Linked DNA regions of Homo sapiens. The gene in region 1 interacts genetically with each later gene. Each region holds a gene or a part of one and is shown in the gene's direction. Other genes may lie near its edges.

What was found.
Region 2: changes in RAD51 (region 1) and TRA2B together harm fitness less than expected from each alone (positive genetic interaction), as found in Homo sapiens cells (one large-scale study listed by BioGRID).
Region 3: changes in RAD51 (region 1) and ACACA together harm fitness less than expected from each alone (positive genetic interaction), as found in Homo sapiens cells (one large-scale study listed by BioGRID).
Region 4: changes in RAD51 (region 1) and ATR are lethal when combined (synthetic lethality), as found in Homo sapiens cells (one large-scale study listed by BioGRID).
Region 5: changes in RAD51 (region 1) and PPP2R1A together harm fitness less than expected from each alone (positive genetic interaction), as found in Homo sapiens cells (one large-scale study listed by BioGRID).

Annotation. Positions count from the first base shown.
Region 1 is NC_000015.10:40,708,664-40,712,182, forward strand, and holds part of RAD51 (DNA repair protein RAD51 homolog 1), read left to right. Parts: intron 1-361; coding exon 362-453; intron 454-3,519.
Region 2 is NC_000003.12:185,921,000-185,924,518, reverse strand, and holds part of TRA2B (transformer-2 protein homolog beta), read left to right. Parts: intron 1-534; coding exon 535-723; intron 724-2,392; coding exon 2,393-2,508; intron 2,509-3,331; coding exon 3,332-3,415; intron 3,416-3,519. UniProt on the Homo sapiens protein: Sequence-specific RNA-binding protein which participates in the control of pre-mRNA splicing. Can either activate or suppress exon inclusion. Acts additively with RBMX to promote exon 7 inclusion of the survival motor neuron SMN2.
Region 3 is NC_000017.11:37,246,335-37,249,853, reverse strand, and holds part of ACACA (acetyl-CoA carboxylase 1), read left to right. Parts: intron 1-1,179; coding exon 1,180-1,261; intron 1,262-1,697; coding exon 1,698-1,843; intron 1,844-2,877; coding exon 2,878-3,028; intron 3,029-3,519. UniProt on the Homo sapiens protein: Cytosolic enzyme that catalyzes the carboxylation of acetyl-CoA to malonyl-CoA, the first and rate-limiting step of de novo fatty acid biosynthesis.
Region 4 is NC_000003.12:142,449,728-142,453,246, reverse strand, and holds part of ATR (serine/threonine-protein kinase ATR), read left to right. Parts: intron 1-13; coding exon 14-119; coding exon of another isoform or gene 120-191; exon of another isoform or gene 192-2,644; coding exon of another isoform or gene 2,645-2,674; exon of another isoform or gene 2,675-2,688; intron 2,689-3,519. UniProt on the Homo sapiens protein: Serine/threonine protein kinase which activates checkpoint signaling upon genotoxic stresses such as ionizing radiation (IR), ultraviolet light (UV), or DNA replication stalling, thereby acting as a DNA damage sensor.
Region 5 is NC_000019.10:52,214,037-52,217,555, forward strand, and holds part of PPP2R1A (serine/threonine-protein phosphatase 2A 65 kDa regulatory subunit A alpha isoform), read left to right. Parts: intron 1-1,742; coding exon 1,743-1,857; intron 1,858-1,967; coding exon 1,968-2,038; intron 2,039-2,492; coding exon 2,493-2,627; intron 2,628-3,519. UniProt on the Homo sapiens protein: The PR65 subunit of protein phosphatase 2A serves as a scaffolding molecule to coordinate the assembly of the catalytic subunit and a variable regulatory B subunit.

The DNA of each region.
Region 1 (3,519 bases):
ACTTCTGCCTCCCAGGCTCAAGTGATCCTCTCACCTTAGCTCCTGAGTAGCTGGTACTACAGGCATCCGCCACCATGCCCGGCTAATTTTTGTAGAGACAGGGCTTCACCATGTTGCCCAGGCTGGTCTCGAACTCCTGAACTCAAGCAATCCACCCACCTAAGCTTCCTAAAGTGCTGGGATTACAGGCATGAGCCACCACGGCTAGCCTCAAAATACATTTGTGAAAAATTATCGCTTGTTGGAAATTGAATTTTTAACTTACATAAACATCTTTCTGATGAGCTCCAAGAACATTTCTATGACTACAGTTTCTACATGTTTGTATTATGCTAAGAGTTATTTCTTATCGCTTTTTTAGGTGGAATTGAGACTGGATCTATCACAGAAATGTTTGGAGAATTCCGAACTGGGAAGACCCAGATCTGTCATACGCTAGCTGTCACCTGCCAGGTGAGCTGTTGGGGCTATAGCTAATCAAATAAGCAAGCATTACTTCATTCCTGCTATTTGCAAGCATCTGTTAGGATGGCCATAAAAGGTACTTTCTCTGTCCTCAAGAATCTTATAGCTGTTAATAGTTAGAAGATAGACTCCTACTTCAAAATCCTTCCATGTCATAGAAACTTCCAAATCATTGATCTCCTATCAGATACGTTAATTTCAAATACTTTTGCTACCAGGCCTTTTCCTGGCTTTACTTGCTACTTTTTTTTTTTTTTTTTTTTTTTGAGGCAGAATCTCGCTGTGTCGCCCAGGCTGAAGTACAGTGGTGTGATCTCAGCTCACTGCAACCTCCTCTCTGGTTCAAGTGATTCTCCTTCATCAACCTCCCGAGTACCTGGGATTACAGGCGCCCACCAGCATGCCCGGCTAATTTTTGTGTTTTTAGTAGAGAGGGGGTTTCACCATGTTGGCCAGGCTCCTCTTGAACTCCTGATCTCAAGTGATCCACCCACCTTGGCCTCCCAAGTGCTGGAATTATAGGCGTAAGCCACTGCGCCCAGCCCTCCATCTTCTTCATTAGTCTAGATTTTATGATTCATCATTAAAGTAATTCTCTTGCAGATAGCCTCAGTTTACATACCCACTTGAAGAGATGCCAACCTTAGATGAAACTCATCTATCTTCTCAGTGTCTGTACCCAAATAGCTGATTATACTGGAGAAAAATCGTATCATACAGCTGACTGACTTCACTTTAAATTCAAGATGACAGGCCAGGCACGGTGGCTCACGCCTGTAATCCCAGTACTTTGGGAGGCCGAGGCGGGTGGATCACTTGAGATCAAGAGTTTGGCTGGGCGCGGTGACTCACGCCTGTAATCCCAGCACTTTGGGAGGCCGAGGTGGGCGGATCACAAGGTCAGGAGATTGAGACCATCCTGGCTAACACAGTGAAACCCCATCTCTACTAAAAATACAAAAAATTAGTTGGGCGTGGTGGCGGGTGCCTGTAGTCCCAGCTACTTGGGAGGCTGAGGCAGGAGAATGGCGTGAACCCGGGAGGCACAGCTTGCAGTGAGCCGAGATTGCGCCACTGCACTCCAGCCTGGGCGACAGAGCGAGACTCTGTCTCAAAAAAAAAAAAAAAAAAAAAAAAAAAAAGAAGAAGAAAAAAAAAAGATCAGGAGTTCAAGACCAGCCTGGCCAACATGGTGAAACCCTGTCTCTACTAAAAATACAAAAATTAGCTGGGCGTGTTGGCACGTGCCTGTAATCCCAGTTACTTGGGAGACTGAGGCAGGAGAATCGCTTGAACCCGGGGGGCAGAGGTTGCAGGGAGCTGAGATCGCACCATTGCATTCCAGCCTGGTCAAAGAAGCGAGACTCTGTCTCAAAAAAAAAAAAAAAAAAAAAAAGAATGAAAAAAGGAAAAAAATTCAAGATGACAAAACTTTAGATTAACATTCAAAACTTCTTGGCAGTCTACTTTCTCCATTTAGGTGTACTTTCCCACTGAGTTAGACAGGCATCTCATATCTCATACTTCGTCTTCTGTTATCAGAACTTTATGCTCCTCTTCAACTCTCATTCTTAGCCAAAAACCTAACCTGCTCTTTGCATCAAATCTACATTTGTGCCCATCTTTTCTTATCTCAGGTTACAATTGAGAAAGTGTCCCTTTTCTTCTCAAAGGCCCATTCTATCAATATGATTTGGTTACCATCTCCTGCCACCTTCTCAAGGACTCTACTCCTTCCATTTTCTCTTGTACCTCTCTATGAGATTATCCTCATCAGTATACAAATATGTCTAGTGTCTCCTCCATTAGGAAAAAACCTTCCCTGGACCCCTTCAGTTTCTTTTTCCTTTACTTATGCTCCTATTGGTGGGAAGATTTGGAAATAGACACAGTAGGTTAAATAATTGCCCAATACATTGTATTTAAGTAGCAAATACTGGACTCAAACCAGACTTCAGAGATGATGTTCTTAAAACTTCATAAGAGGCCAGCATGGTGTTTCATGCCTGTAATCCCAGTACTTTGGGAAGCCAAAGTGGGAGGATTGCTTGAGACCAGGAATTTGAGACCAGCCTGGGCAACATAGTGAGACCCTGTTTCTGAGATGCCATTTCTAAAAACAAACAAACAAAAACAGACAATTAAAAATATTAGCCCAGCATGATGATGTGTACCTGTGGTCCTAGCTACTCAGGAGGCTGAGGTGGTAGAATCTCTTGAGCCCAAGAGGTCGAGGCTCCAGTGACTGGGATCGTGCCACTGCATGTTTTCTGCTGTATTGCTAGTGCCTAAGGCAGTGTTTGGCTCTCAGTAAACAATAAATGCTTGAATGAGTGGAGATAATAGATGTCCAAAAACATGCCTGATATATAAAATGAATGTCACAGAGGAAATGGGTTAGCTGTTTAAGGAATAGAAAGGGGTAATTTCACCCTAGAGTGATCATGGAATACTTTATGGAGAAAAGATTTTGGACCAGACTTCTGAAGAATGCTAAATTTGGGAAGGAAGGAAATTAAAAGCATTTAACTGTATAGAATGGGATGAACAGAGGATGGGAAGGCATAAGTTAGAAGGAAAAGACAATAAATAAGCAAGGTCATTTAACTGGTTTAGAGTTTGTGTAGAAAAGTTGTAGGAGATGACCCTTAAAAAGATACATCAAACTGGGCATGATAGCTCACACCTGTAATCCCAGCACTTTGGGAGGCCACGGTGGGTGGATCGCTTGAGCTCAGGAGTTTGAGACCAGCCTGGGCAACATGGCAAGACCCTATCTCTACAAATAATATAAAAATTAGCCAGACGTGGGCTGTGCCTGTAGTGGCAGCTACTTGGGAGGTGGAGGCGGGAGAATCGCTTGAGCCCAGGAGGCCAAGGTTGCCATGAGCCAAGATTGTACCACTGCTCTCCAGCCTGGGCAACAGAGCAAGATTTTGTCTCCATCTCAAAAAAAAAAAAAAAATTAAGATCCTATTTCAGAAGGTTAAGAAGTTTAAACTTGATTTTATGAAGAGTAAGCATTAGCTGGTCAGGAAACTAAGATAGTGACAA
Region 2 (3,519 bases), on another chromosome or scaffold:
TCTTACGATTGCAAGCTGTTTATGACCTGTAAAATGGTTTGGTACGCATCCCCTCAGGCTTCGTTTATGTACTTACTTGTGTATTGTGTTTCTGAAAAAATCGAACCATACATGCTCATCTTTTTGGCAATTCAGAGCATTCTATTGAATGGAAGGTGTGTCAACATTACAATTTTTTCTAGCTGATAGACACAGTGTGGTTCCAGTTATCCTTGTATGTCATGTTATGAATATGTGAATTTTTCTTAGAATAAATTCATAGAAGGAAAGATGCCAAGTTGCTTTTCGCCAGCACGAGTGCTTGTTTACCTACTTAATTCTAAGGTTGAAATTTTTTCTTTTGCATTCTTTCCTACCCATTCCCAAAAATACTTGTAGTACTTGCTGTAATTTTGTAATTTCTAAGCAGTGTTTGGTCTAATCATTATGTACTTTTCTTGTTAGTGACATTTTGGCTAGTATACAGCTCCCTTTTTAAACAACTTTGATTTTATGACAACTTTTCCAAAGTTTAAAACTTTTTTTTTTCCCTAGGCAAATCCTGATCCTAACTGTTGTCTTGGAGTATTTGGGCTGAGCTTGTACACCACAGAAAGAGATCTAAGAGAAGTGTTCTCTAAATATGGTCCCATTGCCGATGTGTCTATTGTATATGACCAGCAGTCTAGGCGTTCAAGAGGATTTGCCTTTGTATATTTTGAAAATGTAGATGATGCCAAGGAAGTAAGTAAAAGCCCGTTCCTTTGTAAACCATCAGTTCTATTGTTAACGCCAAGTTATCAGTGACCAATTGCTAGGATAAGGACAAGGACAAGTCAGTAATACTTCGAACTTTTTCTCCAACCTCTTGTGGAGACTCAAGATACATGCAGAATAACAAAATTTTGTATAACTTGGGGAAGTTGGTCCTACCACCTGCTTTATTAGTTGCCACCTATTGGGGTCAACTATACCCCAATTCCGCCAGGATATGTAGTCAGTGTTTACACTGGGTTCACATTCTAGAGTCAAAAATAACCAAAAGCAAAGTTATGATGCAGAAGGAAAACATTGTTCCTTTTTTGGCTAGTGAATGATGTCATATTTGGATTTTGATTTGTTTTGAGGCAGAATATAGAGTCAAGATTTGAAATGTGGGGCTAGACCCCATTTAAGAAATTCAGATTTTAGGTACATTAAGGATGGTAGCTAAAGTCATCTCCAAGTATAGAGAAGAGGAAGAACTGAGAAACACTTAATGACAAACGGAGTTTCACTCTTCTTGCCTGGGCTGGAGTGCAATGGCGCGATCTCCGGCTCACCGCAACCTCCGCCTCCTGGGTTCAAGCAATTCTCCTGCCTCAGCCTCCTGAGCAGGTGGGATTACAGGCTACCACACCCAGCTAATTTTGTATTTTTAGTAGAGACGGGGTTTCTCCATGTTGGGTCAGGGTGGTCTCGAACTCCCAACCTCAGGTGATCTGCCCCCCTCGGCCTCCCAAAGTGCTGGGGGATTACAGGTGTGAGCCACCATGCGCGGCCGCCCATTTCCTAATTAAATTTTTGCAGTAGGATCATAGCTCTCGGAAAATAGCATAAATTTTATCTTAATCTCTAGTGCCAGAAACTGCCTGGGCGTAAACACTAGCTTGAACATCTGAACTAGAAGATAGCATAGTATTGGAATTAGAAACTTAAATTCTATTTAGGTGAAAGGATGTTTCCTCAAATTATGAACAAACTTTAATGTGTTTGAAACGGGGTATTTTTATTTTTTAAATGTATGCTGTTAATACATACTTTGGGAAAAGGAACTATATGTACTTAAGGCTGTGCTTCAGTCTTAGCTTTTGGCTTCCAGAGAAGGGCTAAGAAAACTTCCAAGGGTTAAATAATGTGTTCAGGTTTCAGTCATAGGATCTCAGTCGCAACTATTTAACTCTGTTGTTTTAACCCAACAGCAGCCAGATGAATGAGTTGGGGCCCTATTCCAATAAAAGATTATTTTGGGGCATTGGAATTTGGATTTTGTGTGTTTCTTCACTTGTCATGAAATACTGTTTTTCCCCCTAGTTATTTAAATTTTTAGCTTATGGGTTATACAGAAACAGCCAGCTGGCCAGATTTGACCTACAGGCTATAGTTTGCCAATTGTGTGCTGCTTTGGAGCTGGAAATACTGTCAGGATCATAGTTAGGTAAAATAATTGTTTCAAGTTTTTATGAGTAGCTTTTACAAATGAACATTTAGTAGAGGGAACAACACATTTGTAAGTTGTAGACCTTACGTTCTGGCTAACATTAAGATAACTTAATGCACCTAACTGAAATGTCCAGTGGGATCTTACTCATAGCCACAGGATAATTAGTGGCTTTGTTCAGGATGTATGTAACAATTTATTTACCTTTTGAAGGCTAAAGAACGTGCCAATGGAATGGAGCTTGATGGGCGTAGGATCAGAGTTGATTTCTCTATAACAAAAAGACCACATACGCCAACACCAGGAATTTACATGGGGAGACCTACCTAGTAAGTTTATTTTCAAAATAAATATAATTGGCAGTTTTTCACTTGTCAAAGAAACACTTGTATTAGTGGAAAGTCTTCAGCACTTAGGTTTGTGCCATAAACTTGACTGTTGATTGATTAAATGCTCCTCATTAGGGCATTTTTCTCATAGTAGAAGTTCAACCATTACAGGTAAAACTAAATCTTAGTCAAGTCCATTTTTAAATTTTTTGTTTGTTGTTGTTTGGTTTTGTTTTTGTTTTGTTTTGAGACGGAGTCTTGCTCTGTCGCCCAGGCTGGAGTGCGATGGTGCAATCTCAGTTCACTGCAACCTTCGCCTCCTGGGTTCAAGCAGTTCTCCTGCCTCAGCCTCCCGAGTAGCTGGGACTACAGGCGCGTGTCGCAACGTCCGGCTAATTTTTTGCATTTTTAGTAGAGGCAGGTTTTCACCATGTTAGCCAGGATGTTCTCGATCTCCTGACCTCATGATCTGCCCGCCTCGGCCTCCCAAAGAGCTGGGATTACAGGCGTGAGTTGCTGCACCCGGCCTAAATTTTCTTAAATAGAGCAAAGTGATACTATTTTTGTTTCCTCTTAGAAATATGTGGGATATGCAGATTGACCTCTGGCAGGATCTGTGTGCCTCCTTAACCAAAGATTTTTAAAAATAGGTTTATATATATTGAAACAAGGGAAAGGGCAATGTTTGCTCAATATAGGTGAGAATTTTAACAGGAATAATTTTCATTTTCCAGTTAATGTGTCAGAAAAGGCCTACTAGTAGATATAAAAACTCATGTCCAGAAAGATAAGGGAGGTCACCTGAATATTTTTTTCTTCATAGTGGCAGCTCTCGCCGTCGGGATTACTATGACAGAGGATATGATCGGGGCTATGATGATCGGGACTACTATAGCAGATCATACAGGTAAGTTATGAGGTAGAAAGGTCAACGTCTGAATCTCAGTACAGTGTACAGAGCAGCACTATGCTTAAGTTTTAGCCTTTGTTAAAAGCTTTGCTTTAGTACTT
Region 3 (3,519 bases), on another chromosome or scaffold:
CACAAGAGAATTATGGGAGCTACAGTTCAAGATGAGATTTGAGTGGGAACACAGCCGAACCATATCAACATGCAATATTTGTTTCTTCCCACCTCCTGGTTTTTTAAAACTCAAATGGTAGCATGCTGTGAAGCTGTTATTTACCTTGCTTTTTTAACTCAACAGTATATTTTTTAAAGTGTTTTTTAGTTCACATCTTTTTAATGTCTGTATGTTTTGTTCCACATGTGAAAACATGCGCAACATCACTAATCATTAAGTAAATAAAATCAAAACCATGATGAGATACCACCTCACACCCATTAGGATGCCCACTGTCAAAAAACAGAAAATAGCAAGTATTGGCAAGTACGTAGAGAAATTGGGACACTTGTGCACTCTTGATGGGAATGTAAAATGATGCAGCCACTATTGAAAAATGGTATTGCAATTACTGAAAAAATTAAAAATAGAATTACCCTATGATCTGGTAATACCACTTCTGGGTATTCTGAAAGAATTGAAAGCAGGGTCTGAAAGATACTTGCACAGCCACATTCATAGGAGGATTATTCACAGTAGCTAAAAGATGGGAGCAACTCAGATGTTGGTTGATGGATGACTGGATAAACAAAATGTGGCATATACATACAATACAGTATTATTCAGCCTTAAAGAAGAAGGAAATTCTGACACATGCTAAAACATAGGTGGATCTTAAGGACATTAGGGCAAGTGAATTAAGCCTGTCACAAAAAGACAAATACTATATGGTTTTACTTATATGAAGTATGAAGAGTAGTCAGACTCATAGAACTAGAAAGTAGAATGACGGTTACCAGGAACTGGGGGGAGGGCGAAATTGGGAGTTGTTAATGGGTGTAGAGTTTCACTTTTGCCAGTTGAAAAAGTCCTGCAGATTGGTTGCAGAATAGTGTTAATATCCCCAACACTATAGAACTGTGCATTTTGTAATGGTTAAGATGGCAAATTTAATGTAATGTGTATTTTACCCTAATTTAAAAAAATCCATTGTAAGATTCATAATTGATGTGATCAATTCCTTACAAACGATCATTTAGGTATTTAGGTTGTTTCTAGTCTTTTGTTATTCTAGGAAATGCTACAATCAATAATGTTTTAGATTCTCTTATAACTGTTAGAACTTTGTAGTAAGTTCCTCTCTCATCGTTCTTTCAGGGGTCAAGTCCTTCCTGCTCATACACTTCTGAATACAGTAGATGTTGAACTTATCTATGAGGGAGTCAAGTATGTACTTAAGGTATGCAGAACCCCATTGGAGCTTGCACCTTACTTTTTTAGCTATCTTTCTTTAGGTTGAGAGGCAGGAGAAAAAGTTTGATTTAATGCAGGGATGGGGGTATTAGTGAAATTACCGTCATTATTTTTGTCAGTGTCCTGAAGCAGCGTTTGTTGTTCTATGAAAATCTTTTTTGTTGTTCTTCAACTTCACATACACTGCCAAGAGATAAAGGAGAGACAGAGAACAACCACAGTTGGGGAAAATCAACTAAGGTTGCCCTCTTTGCTTACAGCAGGACTGAGCCATGTCCACAGACACTGATGCAAATAGCATCAGTGCCATGAATTTTCTTCCTCCTGACAGATCTTTCTTATCTGTATTTTTGAAGCATTCAAATTTCATTTGGAGCTGTACCTGGAAGGGACACACTGATCCTCATTCTCATTCCCTACAGGTGACTCGACAGTCCCCCAACTCCTATGTGGTGATCATGAATGGCTCATGTGTAGAAGTAGATGTACATCGGCTGAGTGACGGTGGACTGCTCTTGTCCTATGATGGCAGCAGTTATACTACGTATATGAAAGAGGAAGTGGATAGGTAAGTGGCTGTTTGAGGTCCATTTGCTGGTCATCCTGTTAGCCTTTTCTCTTATTAGCTACTAGCTCTTGGGATTTTCCCAGGCTTTTCTTGGTACTCATTTGTAGTTAAAAAAAAAAAAAATAGTACATGCACTTAACAAAAATATCAAGAGTATTAAAGTGTTTATAATTAAAAACATGTCTCCCTACCACTCCAGTGTATGTGGACAATGAAAAATAAGTTCCCCTTTTTATAAGTAACCATTGTTAAAAGTTTCTTACATATTTGAGTAGAAATTTTATATGCATATACAAGTTACACTCATGTACATACTGTTTTTCTTTAAATACATTCACAAATGTGGCTGGGCGCGGTGGCTCACGCCTGTAATCCCAGCACTTTGGGAGGCCGAGGCAGGTGGATCACCTGAGGCTGGGAGTTCAAGACCGGTGTGGCCAATGTGGTGAAACCCTGTCTCTACTAAAAATACAAAATTAACCAGATGTGGTGGCTTATGCCTGTAGTCCCAGCTACTTGGGAGGCAGAGGCAGGAGAATCACGTGAACCTGGGAGGTGGAGGTTGCGGTGAGCCGAGATCACGCCATTGCACTCCAGTCTGGGCAACAAGAGCAAAACTCCGTATCAAAAAAAAAAGAAATTCACAAATGTTCAACACCAGTTATGGTGTTATGAGAATGAAATAAATTAACATGTTGAAAATGTGTAGAACATTGCCACAACATAGCTAGGCTTCAAGAAATGTTAGCTATTACGTCATCAATATCTTTGTGTGTGTTTTTTTAAATGGTGGTACCTGTTATTTTTAATAGTCATGTGGTATTCCATTATATGATTATACTATATTTAATCTGATCCTTATTGAAGGAAATTTATGTTAATTGACATTGTAAACAAATATGCAGTGAATATGTCTGTGTGTGTGTATAATAAAGTTTTCAGGATTTTTTTTCTTTGAAGGTTGACATTCTCTACCATTCTCCTTTACATCCTGAGGTGCTTTCTTAGCTTACATACTTCCACTTGTCTCCTAGATATCGCATCACAATTGGCAATAAAACCTGTGTGTTTGAGAAGGAAAATGACCCATCGGTGATGCGCTCACCTTCTGCTGGGAAGTTAATCCAGTACATTGTAGAAGATGGAGGTCATGTGTTTGCCGGCCAGTGCTATGCTGAGATTGAGGTCAGGGTGGTGAAAGGACTGTGGGATCATGGGAGGGGAAGGTAGGAAAAGGGTCGGCTGGGATGGACTAGGACTGAAAAGTTACAGAAAGGAGGCTGGGCACAGTGGCTTGTGCCTGTAATCCTACCACTTTGGGAGGCTGAGGCAGGAAGATCGCTTGAGCCCAGGAGTTCGAGACTAGCCTGGGCAAGATGGTGAGACCCCATCTCTATGAAAAATTAAAAAATTAGCGGCGTACAGTGGCACATGCCTGTAGACCCAGCCACTCTGGTGTCTAAGGCGGGAGGATCCCTTGAGCCCAGGAATTCAAGGCAGCAGTGAATGGAGATTGTACCACTGTACTGGAGTGGTACAATTTGTGGCCTGCGTCACAAATCAAGACCCTATTTCTAAAAAATTAAAAAAAAAGGTAACAGATTGGAAATAAGAATGAAAAAGAAACATCAGTTGGCTTAATTAGAAGTGCGAACCTTAAGATTTTTAAAACACAT
Region 4 (3,519 bases), on another chromosome or scaffold:
GTTTCAATTTTAGTGTCTTAAAGACTTTTCTACATGATCCTCTTGTGGAATGGAGTAAACCAGTGAAAGGGCATTCCAAAGCGCCACTGAATGAAACTGGAGAAGTTGTCAATGAAAAGGTTAGTAGAAGGTATAGCTTGATATGGGCTGTAGTCCTCATCTCTACAAATGAACTTGATATGCAGCTATAGTTCTCATCTCTATGCATGAGAACTGCTTGGAAATACTGTTAGTGACTATTGATTACTCTGAAATCTAGTTCTCTAGTATCACAATGCCATAAGTTTTCTTTATTGTCAGTAATGTTAACAGTATTCGCATTTGTATAATAAAAGTTCATGGCACACTTGTTTAACCATAGACAATTCACAGTTATGAGATACAGTAGGAAAAACTATAGTACAAATTGCCTGAACTTACAGAACAACAGGTCTGAGCTTTAATATCATGATACCAGTATGTCACAAGCTATGTTAACAAATGCAGCAATTCACTTCTTACTTAGTTGAAGCTGCAAAGTTTGCAGATAGTTTTGTTGTTGTTGTTGTGGTGGTGGTGGTGGTTGTTGTTTTTGAGACAGAGTCTCGCTCTGTCATCCAGGCTGGAGTACAGTGGCACGATCTTGGCTCACGGCAACCTCTGCCTCCTGGGTTCAAGCAGTTCTCCTGCCTTAGCCTCCCAAGTAGCTGGGATTATAAGCGTGCACCACCACAGCTGGCTAATTATTATATTTTTAGTAGAGATGGGTTTCACCATGTTGGCCAGGCTGGTCTTGAACCCCTGGCTTCAAGTGATCCACCCACCTCAGCATCCCAAAATGCAGGGATTATAGGCATAAGCCACTGTGCCTAGCTCAGATAGTTGTTTTTAATAAGTTAGAATAGATTGAGGATTCGTTTTTTTTGGTGGGGGGCACTCTTACATCTTTAATAAGTCTTGTACAGGCTTACTAAATACAATGAATTATACCAACTATATGCTAATAAAGATTAAAAATTTACATTCCAGTTAACTACCTAAAGAGTTTAAGTCCACTTTCATCCTACTGATATAGCTCGAGGAAGGCTAGACCTGTACGCCCCCATCCTTCATGTCATCCTTAACCCTTTGTCTTGAGAAAGAAGGTTTAGCTGCTTCTTTAGTTCTTCTAAAAGAACTAAAAGAAAAATTTCTTTTTCTTGCTCTATTATCTTCATCTGTAGGGTGAGATTAATATTTCCAGAATTGTGGAAAAATTCACTCTGTAGCAGTTGAAGAGCAGATGGTCTCTGGGACATGTTCCTTTTCGTTAAGTGATAGATATACTTGGCTTGTACTGGATACCTTTTACTGAGGGATTCCAATATCTGACCAGTTCTTGAACCTGTTAAAACTTCTGCTCGCTCCATTTCTGTTCTAAACAGCTGAAAGAGCTCTAGCAGGATCACACTCAAGCTATATACATATCTAACTGGACAAAGCCAGCCCTGGTCTCTACAAATAGTTTTTGTTTTTTTTTAATTAGCTGGGCTCAGTGGCACACTCCTGTAGTCCCAGCTACTTGGGAGGCTGAGGTGGGAGGATCACTTGACCCCAGGAGTTGGAGGCTGCTGTGAGCTATGATGACACCACTGCACTCCAGCCTGGGCAACAGAGTGAGACCCTTGGCATCATACTCAGATCCTTCCAACTGCTGGGATGAAGCATACAGACAAGTGCCCACTCTGGATATAGGTGTTGGTGTTCTCTTTCTGTTTCTATGGGTCCAGTCTGTGTTCTTTTGTAAGATGTCTGGGCAAGCCAGACCAAAGTCTCCTATTTTTACTTGCTGATCAGGGCCATGAAGAAAAATATTTCTAGGCTTCAGATCTCTGTTTACAATACCCATGTTATGTATGTAAAACACACCTTCCACTAAATCTTGAAAATTTTTTGTTGCAACACTGGCCATAAGGACAGGCAAACTTGCCCACACACTCTTGGCCCTGTTTGTTTCTCTCAGCTAGCCAGTCCCACAGCTGGAGCTTGCACACCTGCATCTGGATGTGCAGCATCAGGTGGTACTGCACCTCGATCCCCAACAAGTTGAAGTTTTCTTTGGAAGATTCCTCAGTGGATGTGAAATTCTCCTCTAGGAGGGAATTACACCTGAGCAGCAGGGGCTGTTTCACAATTGACCAGGTAGACAAACCAGCCAGGCCATTTTCCTGGAGCTCCAGGGATGATTCATATTCACTGGTGTCTCTTAAGACGGAATTGATGGTGTAGTTCACAGCTTGTTGTTCTGATTTTGAGTGTCAGATTCTGCAAAGGGTTTTTCTTTTCTGAGGTGAGCTCCGCGAAGATAATGGGTGAGCTGCTATTTTCACCATTTTTAACACCGTATTGGTATCTGTCTGCTTGGTCGGAGAACACTTCCAGAAATGGCAACTGAACGGAAGCTCTGTCTGCTTGTGGTTGGACCACTTGAACATGTTCTGTCCACGCAGTGTGATAACGAATGATATTAGGGTGCTGAAGACCTGCCAGCACCTTCATTCCCCGTAGTTCTTTCATGTAATGTGTTTTTGTTGCACCCTTAATCAGGATTTTTTAAATTGCATAATACTGACCATCTAATTTATTCCTGACCTTGTATACTCTTCCATATCCACCTTTTCCTAAGATGGCAAGTTCTTCAAATTCATTTAAGTAACGTGAAGTTTGTGCTTCAAAGGGTACTTCCCTTGATCTGATTTTCTGGATATGAGAAATAGCCTCACAAGGATCCTGATGAACTCTCTCTTTAGTGGACCTCATTAAGTGAGTAATAGCTCTGTGGTGATGTAGTCTCAATGAGCTAAACTTGTCACAAGTGAAAGAAGACAGCAGCCCCATTTTGATAAAGGTCTGGCAAAGTAACTTAAACACTGTCTTGAATGAACTGGGTTTGGTTCACGCACATGGCTCAAGTGCTTCACCAAAGAAATAAGCGGCAGCTGGTTTGCAACTGCAAAAGGGAAAGTTGGCTGTTGTAGGGGTTATTTTAATACCTGGAGTTCTGCTGGAACATAAGTCATATTTGGAGTCCAGGCTCTTGGCGGAAAAGTCGATGGCAGATGGCACAGCAACAGTCTCCACCCCGTGGCCCTCCTCTTTGTGCTCGTGGGCTGCAGCGCAGCCCACCAGCCCACCCAGCACCACCTCTGAGAATTATTCTTCTAATAACGTTATTCTTCCTTTTGCATTCAGATATGCTTAAGAAATTGTACAGTTCCAAGTAGCTCACTTAGAACACCCATTTGCATGTACTAACATAATGTAAATATTAGGCAGTACAGCATTGTTATTTGAATATTCATTGAAATGTTTAAGTCCTAAACACTTCCAAAGCAGATTTAAAAAATTATTTTTCTAGAATTGTAATGTGTAAATAATTCCCTGGTATTTCACGTAGTCCAGAAACATGTCCAAGCAGTTGATGTTGAATCAATCTTGCGAGCCTCCAAATCAGTATCACAAGCTAACTGTATTTGTTTAATTTCTTCTTTTCCTGTATTT
Region 5 (3,519 bases), on another chromosome or scaffold:
TGTGGGACAGACAGACAGATGTGGGGCCTTGGAAGCATTGAGGAGGGGAGGTGGTGTTACAGCTGGTTCTAGAAGATGAGTGGGTAAGAGCTAAGATAGGAACTTTGTTCCAGCCAGAGGACAAAGAACCCTGGGAGGTGAGAGCAAGTGCAAGCAGGAACATTCAGGCCTGATCTTGATGGCCCAGCCTGAGAGAAAGCAGGAGAGAGGGCAGGGTGGGATCGGAGAGAGGGCAGGGTGGGATCAGAGAGGCCTTGAGTGCCACTCCACCCTGAGGCGCCCTTTGCCTTTAATTATGCTGGTTCCCACTGGCATTTGCGGGAAGGACTCAGAGCTTCAGAATAGCGTACCATCACCACAGTTAGGGAAGGTTCTTCCCATCCTTGTCTCCTGAGCTGCATAAACTGTGTCACACTGGGTCTTAGAATAAAAATTCCATGAGGGCAGGAATTTTAGGCTGTTAAACCAGTTCTTGGCACATAGTAGACATTCAGTAAATATTTGCAAGATGAATAAAAGGCAGTATTTTCCCAAGATATCATGAGGTCCTTCAAGATTTTTACTTGTTCATTCCCGTCTTCATAATGAACTGTCCTGCTTCCTACCAGGTCTTCAGGAACCAGCTTTGCAGCAGGAGCCGTGCGTCTTTCCATGCCTGGTGCCATGAAACAGGCAGGGCCAAGCGTGCCTCCCTTTTTTTTTTTTTTTAAGACAGAGTCTCAGTCTTTTGCCCAGGCTGGAGTACGGTGGCACAAGCTCAGCTGACTGCAACCTCCACCTCCCAGACTCAAGTGATTCTCGTGCCTTAGCCTCCTGAGTAGCTGGAATTACAGGTGTGCACCACCACACCCAGCTAATTTTGTATTTTTAGTAGAGATGGGGTTTCACCATGTTGGCCAGGCTGGTCTCGAATTCCTGGCCTCAAGTGATCCACCCACCTCTGTCTCCCAAAGCGCTGGGATTACAGGTGTAAGCCACTACGCCCAGCCCTAGAGTGCCTTCCTTTCTGTCAATCTTTATTGTTTTATTTTTATTTTGAGACAGGGTCTCACACCATCACCCAGGCTGGAGTGCAGTGGCACAGTCACGGCTCACTGCAGCCTTGACCTCCTGGGCTCAGGTGATCCTCCCACTTCAGCCTTCTGAGTAGCTAGGACGATAGGTGCCTGCCCCCACACCCGGCTAATTGTTTTGTTTTTTTTGTAGAGTCAGGGTTTCACTGTGTTGCCCGGGCTGGTCTTGTTCTCTGGGACTCAAGCGATCTGTCCACCTCAGCTTCCCAAAGTGCTGGGATTATAGGCATGAGCCATCGCACTTGGCCTATTGTTTTATTTTCATTACAAAAGTAATTCGTGCTTCTGGTAACAGATCTTTAAGAAATACAGCCATATATAAATCAAAAAGTTGCAGTCACTATATCATTTGAATGTTTTTGAATCAGGTAACAGAAAACTTAACCTCAGTAGCCTGAATAATATGGAAATGTGTTATTTTTAATGCTGACAACACCGTGAGGTAGGTGCCCTCGCAGTCCTCATTTTTCTTTGGAAGCAAAAGAGGCTCAGCGAGGTGAAGAGCCTTGCCCCGGGGCCAGTCTTGGCACTCGAATTAGATTTTAGCACTGCTTCCAAGGCCCACGCTCTGTCCCCTAATTCTGGTGCCTTCACTTTGATTTTGGCTTCCTTAGCCCAGAGTAAACTGCCAGCCCCTCTCACTCTCCCCCTCCTCCTTCCTGTCTGCAGCTCCAGAAAGCAGTGGGGCCTGAGATCACCAAGACAGACCTGGTCCCTGCCTTCCAGAACCTGATGAAAGACTGTGAGGCCGAGGTGAGGGCCGCAGCCTCCCACAAGGTCAAAGGTTGGTGCTGGCAGCCGGAACACAGCAAGTGGGGTGGGTATCCAAGGGGCTGGAGGTGGAACTAGCACATCAGGTCTCACTTCCCTTTGCCTCCCTCTCCCTGCCCACAGAGTTCTGTGAAAACCTCTCAGCTGACTGTCGGGAGAATGTGATCATGTCCCAGATCTTGCCCTGCATCAAGGTAACAGAGAGTTTGATGGGAGGAACCAAGTGGATCCGAGCCTGCCAAAAAGAGGGGCTGGAGACAAGGCTTTGGGGATAGTCAGCTGCAAACTAGGTTCCCAGCCCTCTGGGACCAGGCAGCTCTTGGGTTTCAAGCAGTTAGGGGTCCTGACTGCAGCTTGAGGCTGACCTTAAAGGTGGAAGTACTTTCTAGAACCTCAGATGTCACTGAGTCCTGTCATTCACAGGGTTTTGGGGTTGGAGTGGGGGCTGCTGAGAGCAGGGGTCATTGAACTCTTAAGTAGGTGGTACTCATAAGGAATAGTGATTTCCCCTGTACCCTAAGCCATCCCCTGCTCTATGAATGAGAGGGGCAGAAGCAGGTTATTGTCTCTTAGGAGTTGGCATCTGCTTAGCCACTTGCTGCTGCAGGGGTTGCACTGACCCCTGTGCCTGCCTCTTCTCTCTCCCAGGAGCTGGTGTCCGATGCCAACCAACATGTCAAGTCTGCCCTGGCCTCAGTCATCATGGGTCTCTCTCCCATCTTGGGCAAAGACAACACCATCGAGCACCTCTTGCCCCTCTTCCTGGCTCAGCTGAAGGATGAGGTAAGGGCACCAGGATCTCAGCTCTGGGTTTGTGGAGGGGACAGGCGGGTCTTCCTAGATTGCTAGGGTTTACCTAGATTGACCAGGAATCTGCTGATATCTCAACAGACATCCAGATCTTTGCTGAGTTGCATGTTTGTGGGCATAGCTGTGTGTTCATGCGTTCATTCCTCCAGGCACTCTTCATGAGGCCTTTCCTGGACATGGAGGATATGAAAAATAGAAATTTAAAGTTTTTATTTATGGCCAGGCGCGGTGGCTCACGCCTGTAATCCCAGCACTTTGGGAGGCTGAGGCGGGTGGATCACCTGAGGTCAGGAGTTCGAGACCAGCCTGGCCAACATGATGAAACCTCGTGTCTGCTAAAAATGCAAAAATTAGCCAGGCATGGTGGCGAGTGCCTGTAATCTCAGCTACTCGGGCAGCTAAGGCAGGAGTATCACTTGAACTCAGGAGGCAGAGGTTGCAATGAGCCAAGATTGCACCACTGCACTCCAGCCTGGACAACAGAGCAAGACTCTGTCTCAAAAAAAAAATTATTTATTTATGTTTTGAGATAGGGTCTTGCTCTATTGCCCACACTGCAGTGCAGTGATGTGATCATGGTCTACTGCAGCCTCCACCTTCCAGGCTCAAGTGATCCTCCCACCTTAGCCTCCCAAGTAGCTGGGACTACAGGCAAGAGCCACCACATCTAGATAATTTTAAAAAACATTTTCCATAGAGACAAGATATTATGTTGCCCAGGTTGGTCTTGAACTCCTGATCTCAAGCAGTCCTTTTGCCTTGGCCTCCAAAGGCCTGGGATTATAGGCGTGAGCCGCTGCCCCCAGCCTAGAATAAGAGTTTTGATCCCCAAAAGCCTTCAGAGACTGGCAGTGGAGAGAGACAG